Regions from separate parts of the Homo sapiens genome. Here region 2 is linked to region 1. The links come from fine-mapping of genetic effects on gene expression. Tissue or cell type: prefrontal cortex. Region 1 holds a variant in brackets; the other region holds the start of a gene. All regions are shown on one strand. Distances are from middle to middle.

What was found. PIP is the estimated chance that this variant, and not a neighbour inherited with it, causes the effect.
Region 2: TSGA10 starts here. The variant in region 1 is fine-mapped to the expression of TSGA10 in prefrontal cortex (CommonMind, PIP 0.95).

Annotation. Positions count from the first base shown.
Region 1 is chr2:98,862,769-98,867,918 of GRCh38, forward strand. The region is part of intron 1 of CRACDL (CRACD like); the gene reads right to left. Among named protein-coding and RNA genes, the nearest start is that of CRACDL, 71 kb to the right of the region's middle. The variant CT/C (reference allele first, on the strand shown) is at 3,030.
Region 2 is chr2:99,151,948-99,157,097 of GRCh38, forward strand. TSGA10 (testis specific 10) reads right to left here and starts at 2,995. Exons shown (of 21, transcript NM_025244.4): 1 at 2,746-2,995. It overlaps LIPT1 (lipoyltransferase 1), which reads left to right and starts at 3,020. Exons shown (of 2, transcript NM_145199.3): 1 at 3,020-3,104. RefSeq lists enhancers at 2,627-3,248, 2,638-2,837, 2,898-3,127, 3,158-3,357, 3,438-3,517 and 1 more.

The DNA of each region.
Region 1 (5,150 bases):
ACAGAAAATAGGGGATCTGTGAGACACCATGAAGTGGACCAACATACACATTGTAAGAGTTCCAGAAAGAGAAGAGAGAGAGAAATGGGAGGAAGAATATTTGAGAAAATAATGGCTGCAAACTTTCCAAATTTGATGAAATATACATTATATATTTCTACATTTATATGTTTATACATACATATATCTATATATACATTTTACATTTATACATTTATTCATTTATGTGTTTATACATACACACACATATGTTTATGTGTGTGTATGTATAAAACATCCATTTAGCTCAATGAAATCCAAGTAGGATGAACTTAAGCCCACAACAAGACACATTATAATCAAACTGTTGAAAGCCAAAGACAGAAAATCTTGAAAGCAGCAAGAGAGATGTGACTTGTGACATACAACAGATCTGCAATAAGATTATCAGTAGATTTTTCATCAGAAACTTTGGAAGCCAGAAGGTAGTAGGCTGATATGTTCAAAGTGTGAAAAGAAAAAAATGTCAAGCATGAGTCCTATAACTGGCAAAAGTATCCTTGAAAAGTGAGGGAGAAATTAAGACATTCCCAAATAAATAAAAGCTGAGGGAGTCTGTTACTACTAGAGCTGTTCTGCAAGAAATGCTAAAAAGAGTCCTGCAGGTTGAAATGAAAGGACACTAGATATTAACTTGAAGGCATATAAAGAAATAAAGATCTCAATAAAAGTAAATACACGGGAATTATTAAAGCTACTCTTATTGTAAAAATGGTTTGTAACTCCATTGTTTTGTATTTTACGTGATTTAAGAGACTAGCACTTTTTTAAAAAAAGAGGTACAGGCTTTTAAAACCAACTTATGATGGTTCAATTTATGATTTTTGACTTTACAATGGTGCAAAAGTAATACCCAGTCAATAGAAACCATCCGTCTCTTGCAATGCTGGGCAGTGGCACCAAGTCTCCAGTCAGCTGTGCATTTTCAACTTAATGACATTTTCAATTTATGATGGGTATATCAGGACATAACCCCATCGTAAGTCAAGAAGCACCTGGAATTATTAGTCTCAAAACTAGATTCCACCTATATGAGGTACTCAGAGTAGTCAAAATCGTAGCATCAGAAAGTAAAATGGTGACTGCCAGGGGCTGAGGGAGAAGGGATTAGGAAGTTACTTTTTAATGCGTAGTGTTTCCATTTTGCAAGACCCCAAAAAGAGTTCTGGGGGTGGACAGTGATGATGACTGCACAACAATCTGAACGCACTTAATACCACTTAAAATGATTAAGATGGTAAGTTTTATGTTATGTGCATTTTACCACAACTAAAACGTGCACAAAAAAACCTGTACACCAATGTTCATAGCAGCATTATTTATATAATAATCAAAAAGTAGAAATAACCCAAATATCCATCTCTGGATAGATAGAATAAAAAACATGTTACATATATGTAATGAAATATTATCCATCAAGAAAAAGGAATAAAGTAATGATATATGCTACAATCTGGATGAATCTTGAACACATTAACCTAAGTGAAAGAAGGCAGCTACAAAAGGCCACATACTGCATGATTCCACTTACACGAAATGTCCAGACTAGGCAAATCCACAGAGACACAGAGTAGATTAGTGGTTGCAAAGAGGTGGGGAGAGGGATGCTGGGGAAACACAGGTAGAATGGGAGTGACTGCTAATGGGCACAAGGTTTCTTTCTGGGGAAATGGAAATGTTCTAAAATTAGATTGTGTTCCTTGGTGCACAACTCTTTAACAAAAACCCATTGATTGTACCCTTTTTTTTTTTTTTTTGAGACGGAGTCTCGTTCCATCACCCAGGTTTGAGTGCAGCGGCACGATCTCGGCTCACTGCAACCTCCGCCTCCTAGGTTCAAGCAATTCTCCTGCCCTAGCCTCTGGAGTAGCTGGGACTACAGGCAGCCACCACCATGCCTGGCTAATTTTTGCATTTTTAGTAGAGACGGGGTTTCACCATGCTGGCCAAGCTGGTTTTGAACTCCTGACCTCAGGTGATCCACAGGCCTTGGCCTCCCAAAGTGCTGGGATTACAGGCATGAACCACTGCGCCTGGCCTGATTATACATTTTAAACAGGTGAACTTTATGATATGTAACTAATATGTCATCAAAGCTGCGGAAAAAGGATGAAATAAAGACATTTTCAGAAAAGAAAAGTTGATACAATTTGTTTCCAGCAAACTCACACTGAAACAACTGTTACAGGAAGAGGGATGCAATCTCATGGAGAAGACTGGAGGTGCAGGCAGGAATAGGGGAAAACACAAACGTGGACAGACACAAACGTCAACAAGAGGAGGTGGTGGGCTGGACTCCAACCCAAGCCCTGTGCACACCAGCAGAATGCGTGCCTCAGCCCTGCTCTCCCTCCACCAATAGCACTCCGTTTCCTTCCAGCTTGGAGCCTTTGCAGATGTTGTTCCTTCTGCTTGAACTTGATGTTCCCTGCACATTCCACTTTGGTCTTACTCCTACTCATCCTTCAGATTTCAGCTTTCATTCCACTTCCGCAGGAAGACCAATCTGTCCCTTCAGGATGTGTCAAGACCTCCCGCGACATACTATGGGAGACCCTGTGCCTTTTGTTCACAAAACTTACCCATTTTACATGTATACATGTTTGTGTGATTCTTTGATCCATTTCCCCTTTACAGATTCACGCCTGGTTACATTCCCCATACTTTTAATCAATTTTTCCCTTTCCTGGGGAAAAAGATGAAAATAAATTATGACTTAACTATTGTTCTCTAGTGAGTCATGCCAAGATCTGCCTGTACCTTTTTTTAGAAAAATAAGTTTCACATTACTGAAGCAAATGGAATGTGAAATGCTTGCAGAGTTCCTGTGAGAAATCTCTGTTCAAAAATTGTGCCAGCTTGCTGCTTAATGATATTATTATCCTCAAAAGCAGAGGGACTTGACAGCTGTACCCACACCAAAGAGGCGTCAAGACCGGACCTCACTGCAGCCAACCCTTTCTCCCTGAAGGTGTCAAGAGGACTTTCTG[CT/C]TTTTTTTTTTTTTTTTTTGAGACGGAGTTTCGCTCTTGTTGCCCAGCCTAGAGTGCAGTGGCGCAACCTCAGCTCACTACAACCTCTGTCTCCTGGGTTCAAGTGATTCTCCTGCCTCAGCCTCCTGGGCAGCTGGGATTACAGGTGCCCACCACCGACCTCAGGTGATCCACTCACCTCTGCCTCCCACCTCCTGCTCTCTGAAGCTGTCATCCACTTGTGTGCAAAACCTTCTCTGTCCTCTTGTCAGAAAGGATAGCGAGGACAGAGAGACAGATCTGCTCTGACATATAAGAGAAAAGAAAGCAAAGAAATCTCATAATCAAAGGGCTGAAACTAGAGAATATTCAGATGCTAAATGACAGAGCTCTAAGTAAAGCAAGAAGGGCGAGTAAAGGAACTTGGCTGGTCAGATTTGAAGTATCTTATTGCCCTGTAGTTACTGTTTGTCTGATGTTTAAAAACTAAAGTAAGGCGTGGCCTAGAGAAAGCCCCTTTCTTGCTAAGTAGGTAAAACTGGAAGACTAACTCCATGAGGAGAGATAACATGTCACCAGCATAGAACAGCTGCATGGTAGTGCTCAATAAATATTGTTAAATGAATGAATGAATGAATGAGCAAATGATCCAGAGGCACTTAGCAGTAACACCTGATAGATGAAACAATCACTTCTTCTTTTTTTTTTTTTTTTTTTTTTTTTTTTTGAGACAGAGTTTCACTCTTGATGCCCAGGCTGGAGTACAATGGCATGATCTTGGCTCACTGCAACCTCCTCCTCCTGGGTTCAAGTGATTCTCCTGCCTCAGCCTCCTGAGTAGCCGGGATTACAGGCACGCACCACCACGCAGGCTAATTTTTTGTATTTTTTTTTTAATTAGAGACAGGGTTTCACCATGTTGGCCAGGCTGGTCTCGAACTCCTGACCTCAGGTGATCCCCCGCCTCAGCCTCCCAAAGTGCTGGGATTACAGGTGTGAGCCACCGTGACCAGCAGAATCACTTCTTAATGATCACCCAACACATTAATGCCTCAAGGACAGACTTCTTTCAAAATCTATGACTCAGCTAGACAATGTCACATTTCTTTAGCCTGAGTTCTTCTTGCCTAGTGTCTTCCTATAAACATCATCTACCCTATAGCCACACAGAGCTGAAGTCTGCTGGGCTTTGCAGACCCCTCGGTTTGGGAGTAAAGGAATATAGAAGCAGAGGAGGCCCCTGCTTAGAGGCCTGGTTTACTTCCCCAGGCTTCCCCTCAGCCGTGGGCAGGGCAGGGACAGTGAGGGCATCTAGAGAGAATGGCAGGCCACAACTTGCTGGGCTGCTTCTTTGCAAGAAAATACCATAGCTTCATTCCAACACTCAGTCAGCCATGAGATAAACAGCATAGTTTATAAGCATATAAATAGTATCTTATATAAACTACACTATTTTTTAGAAACTACCTACATAACAGTTGATTTAGTGGTATTCAGAGTCCCTATAAATGGACAAATTAACTAACTTAGCTAGGCATGCATACAGCTATCCAACACAGTGTATACTCTATATATGCACACATGAGCCTATGTTCACATGGGCCACCTAAGCCTGCACGAACACCCCTGAATACAATTCATGTCTTAGACTGCAAAGCATGACAGCTTTCATAACAGCGACCTGTTTACACATTCATTGAGGTGAATGTTTTCATATGAGATTTGAAAAACATTAGTTTAGACATTTTCAGGTCATTAGACTAAAAAAAAAACTATCAGAGACTTTTACAAAACCATTATTTCAAAAAGAGCTAAGCATCAGACTTCATAGCCTTATTTTAGAAATTCTATTTGCATAATTCTTGGGAAGATACAATATAAATTCACTCTAACGCTGAGGAGTGTCTTGCAAAGAGGCCATCTAACTTGGCAACGTTCAGTCTCTGAGTGAGAGCTATGACTCGTGCTGACTGCTGCACACATATGTGACGAACAGGACACCGAAGCCCTGGGCACAGTTTTGCAAGGGCTGGCTTATTTTTAACTTCATGAGTTTATTGAGGTAATATACTCCATTTTTCTATGCATATATCCCCAAAATACTGCTTCATTTATCTAGAACCCTACATTTATGACTGACA
Region 2 (5,150 bases), 290 kb after region 1:
AAAATACTAAACAAATGTGTTTGTAGGGAATATTGAGAGTGAAAAACAATTGTTGAATGGGACATAAGCCAAAAAGACAATGCTTTTTATTATTTACAGAACGTAATTCTTTAGAAGAGAAAAAAAATACATAAATCATTCATTTGTTCACCTAGCCTGGCACTGTGCTTGGTGCTGGAGATACAGTAGTGAATAAAATAGCCAGTGCCTTGTAGAGTTTTGTGCCTGTCTACTAGGAAAGACAGGAGATTATACAGTAATTATATAAGATGCAAATTGTGATATGCCATGAAGAAACGTATAGCATTCAGAGGGACATAACACAACACAAGACATACCACATAAAACTGATTTTTTTTAAGATGGTCTCACTCTGTTGCCCAGGCTGGAGTGCAGTGGAGCGATCATAGCTCAGTGCAGTGTCGAATTCCTGTTCTTAAGCGATCTTCCTGCCTCAGCCTCCTAGTAGCTAGGATTACAGGCATGTGCCACCATACCCAGCATGTTTTTGTATTTTTTTAGAGACAGAGTCTTACAATGTTACCCAGACTGGTCTCAAACTCCTGGCCTCAGGTGATCCTCCCACTGGGCCATAAACTTGATTTTAACGTGGGAAATGGGAAAGCGTATCTCAGGACATTTTTGAAAGCAAGTTGATTAAGAAAGTAAAGAAACAGAATGGCTACTCCATAGAGCAGCCTCTGAGGACATTTATAGCTTTTGCAGTGACATGGTTGTCTAAGTGAATGATGGTGATGGTCATAAAAGTGGAGAGAAGGGGATAGAGTCCAGGTGAAGTCTGACAGGATGTAGTCATGGTTTGGAAGCGGAAAGTGAGGAAGAAGAAAGGGCTTCTGGCAAAAAAGGCTTTAGCCTTTATGCATGCAGGATCCCTGGGGGGAAAGAGTGAGTTCAGGAGCATGGCTTTTAGACTTACCAGGTTTACAAGGCAGTTGTATCTATGGAACTAAAAAATATAAATTTTGAAGTTGTATACAGAAATGGTACTTAGAGCCATAGAATGAATGAAATTGCTTAAGGAAAATGTAGTGTGAGATAAAGATCTGAGGAACTCCAACATTTAGGGCTGACTAGATCAGGGTAGCTGGCAAAGGGGACTGCGGAGTTGGCAGTGAGGCTGGAGGAAAACCTGGCAAAAGGGACTGAGGAGTTGACAGGGTAATGTCAAAGTTGTCCACAGGAATCTCCAGGTTGAGGTAGTCAAATGAACACTTAGATGAATACTGAAAAGTCCAGTGGATCTAGCAATATGAATGTCACCCGTGACCTTAGCAAAAGCACTTTTGCTGGAATAATGGGGAAAAGCCATTTTGGAGTACGTTGAAACAATGAATGGGAAGTGAGAAAGTAGATACTGGATGTATAGCAGTTTTTCCAAGAAGCTTGGCTCAGAAGGGTAGCAGACAGGATGACAAGTGGAAAGAGAAATGAGGTCACTGGAGGATTGTTAAAGAGTACAGCATGTTTGAGTGTCACTTGAAAGGTTCCAGTGGAGAAGCTGAAGAAGTAGGTAAAGGTAAGAATAACCAAGGGACAGAAGTCCTGGAGCAGGGAGGAGGGAATGGGATTCTTTAAAACCTCTTCATCAAGAAACTAGGAAAAAAAACCAAAGTTGTACCATCTCAGATTTCAGAGAAAGGGAATTTAGAAGGAAGTAATATAAGCAAAGAGCAACAATATTCTGTGACTGTTTTTAATAATAACTAGGAAAATTCCTAGTGCAGTTAACTCTGAACAAAATTCATTCCCACCTGCATAATACAAGATAGACTTACTCAGAGTGACCTTGGTAAAAGGTGTGATAATAAAGAAAGGAGGTGTCATTATGTCTTCATTGTAGCTTTATATGAAGCCCTGGTCATTTACCGTATCAGCATCAGCAAACTGAACACTGAATGATTCTTACTCCAAGAGGCAAGTCTTAGTGGTTTCTATTTTAACTGAAGGAGAGATTAATTTCTGTGCAAGGTTGAAAAAGGTGACCACAAATTCTTTGGGCTTCTTTCATCAAGAGGTGAAGTCCATTACCCCACGCCTTAACTCTGGGCTGGCTTTGTTGTTGTTTTGGCCAATAGAATATGGCTGAGGCGCTGCTTCCAAGATTAGGCCTGAATTGAGATGCCCTAGCAGCCAGGCAGCACCTGCCAGAGCATGAATAAGGCTATCTTGGACCGCCCAGCGTAGCCAACCTGTGCTGAATGAAGCCACATGAATATGCCCAGGAGAAACTAGCAGAAGAATCACCCACCTTGCCCACGTTAGAGATATAAACCACTATTTGAGGCAGTTTGTTATGCAGCAAAACTTAGCCGAAACTATTACCTTGCTACCTTGACTGCTGGTGTAATTTCCCATCTCATGGAGTCACAGAGTTTTCTTGCCAACTGCAGTGAGTTGGCAAATGGGAATGATCAGTAGCCTCAGTGTGTTTTCTGATCCACTCCATCCTGTATTATCATCTGCGAATACCGTTTTTCCTTTAAATGCAATGTGTCTTTCAAAGCTGACTTGAATTTCTCACCTTTCGAGTTACCTGCCATTTGGACTCACTTATTTGGAGGAGATATGTAAAGACCCAGCGTAATACCTGTATGCTCAATAAAAAGTATTTGCTGGTACTCCTTCCTGCCCGTCGTGTGACCTGACTGCTCTGGGCTTCTGGGGGCTCCCCCTAAACTCGCTCCACGAAATGACCCCTCCAACCTGGCACGCCCGCTCTCCTACCTTCGCCCAGGGCTGGCCGTTATCTCTGTGCTGTCACGCGGGGAAGTCCCATCTGAACTGGGGCCTTATGACCTTCGGTACTTTTATTCGAACGTAGCCTGCGTCCCTGCCTGGAACCTGGTTCCCGCCCTGAAGGACCCTTACTTAGCACTCCTGCGGGCTGCCGGGACCCCACGGCTCCGCAGGCGGAGAGACTAGGCGCGATCCCTGCGCGCCCCTCCTTCTCTTGCGCTTCAGGGGGCCGGCCCTCAGGGGGCGGGGCAGCATCGCGCGCAAGGCCTGCCGGTTGCTCGGGGTCGTATGACGCACTTTTCCAGCTCGAGCCCTCACGAGGCCGTGGGTACGACCGGAAGCCGCAGGTGGGTGAAGCGGAAACGCTTCAAACCGGGATGTTGCGGGCCGTAGCGCGTGGGCGGCCGTGGGGTCTTGGGCGCGCGCGGTGTTTCTGGCGGTGGGTCAGGACTTGCGGGTCGCCTCCGCCGGTGTTGAAGCCTCTTGTGTGCACACTTTCTCCTCAGCACTTGGGACGACCTAATTTCACTGTTAGGAACGGTTGATCCCGAACACAGGAGGGAGGGTAAATATCGTAAAACATGTTGGACGCTAGCTGTGTGCACGCCCCCTGGGAGCCAAAAGGGCGAAGTAAAACATGCACACGACCGTAATGAGATTCTGAGTAAGTTGTATATCATTAGAGAGGGGACAAAATAATAGGGTCTTGGCGAGGTCTTATGAAGAAGCTGCGCCTGCCTAGAAAGATAGATGGGATTGTGCTGTTTTCGCTTTCAGTTCAGTGATGGGGAGCCGTGTTTGGCAGTGCAGAGGTAGCGAAGTGTCCCAAGAACATGGAAGGTAAGGAAGTCTTCCGAGGAAAAACTTCAAAAAATTAGTCATTAAAGGGTGAGAGTAGAAAGATTCAAAGTGATTTTGAAGGAACAAAATTTAACCAGAACTTCAAAGGCTTGACACTATCCCAACGACTGTGAAATATCCTGAAATACCGTGCATTACTCAGTCGGGGTCTGATCCGCTACTGGAGCATAGAATAAAAAAAGAGGGGCACACCTGTGCCAGATGAATCCACGCCTTCTCTAGGGGAGAGAGGGTATCCCGGCTTAAGAGCAGGGGCTCTCCTGAGTTAAGGAAGTGTCTTCCCCAGAGCCCATTCCGTCAGACGTTCATATCATGTAACTCAGTCCTTTTCTGATTATGTATTCACCAAGCAAACTTAAGAGTTGGCTTGTCACCAGACCTACAGTGAATAATTGCACAGGCTCATCTGAATATCTGATAGATGGTCTATAGTTCTCTTTGTAAATCAATAAGCTGGCAGTCAGGGATTTTTGGACATCCCTTTGTTTTCACTTTTTCTCACTCTGTGTGATTTTTTCTTATCTTTCGGGGTTCAACTGAAATGTCACATCCTCACTGAGGTCTGTTTATTGGTTTACGTGTTCAGGTGCTTAGAACAGCTTCTTGCATCTTTTCTCACATGATGCCTTTTTAATGAGGCTTAGCCTAACAACCCTATTTAAAATTGCAATGTAAGTTTTCTCACATACACAGTTACAATCCTCCCTTTATCAGCTCTACATTTTTTTTTAATAGACTGAATCTCGCTCTGTTGCCCAGCCCATCTCGGCCCACTGAAACCTCCACCTCCCGGGTTCAAGCGATTCTCCTGCCTCAGCCTCCCGAGTAGCTGAGATTACAGGCGCCTGCCACCACGCCCAGGTAATTTTTGTATTTTTGGTAGAGACGGGGTTTCACCATGTTGGCCAGGCTGGTCTCAAACTCCTGACCTCAGGTGATCTGTCCACCTTGGCCTCCCAAAGTGCTGGGATTACAGGTGTGAACCACCTCGCCCGGCCATCTACTTTTTTTAATAGCCCTCCTTATCACCTTTATTCATTTGACTCACTGATGATTCCCAAGTGCTAAGAACAATGTCTGTCATGTAATTGATGAAAACTTTGTTGAATTAATACCTTTGTTGTGTTTTATTCACACTGTATATACAATACCTGGATGAAGAGAGATATTTTTAGCACTATTAAAATACATGCATTGGCTCAATACATGAATTGGATCAATTCTGGAACCCTAACAAGATCACATTTTTGACCAAAGTCAATATCTTGGACTATAGTTAATTTATCAAGGTAAATGCCACTTTGATGTGTCTTGGTTAGGAATCTTTGTTCACTTGAGGGAATACATGGTATATGATAGGAACAGTAAGCACAGAATAGAGATGGGAAAGGGAGAACCCTGTCATAACAGTTAACATTTCATATTTGCCAAACATGAATGGCTTATGCATATTAACACATTTAATTCTCTCAACCATTTTATGACGTCTGAGGCCACTGAAGCAGCTAGAGGTTAAACCACTTCCCTAAAGT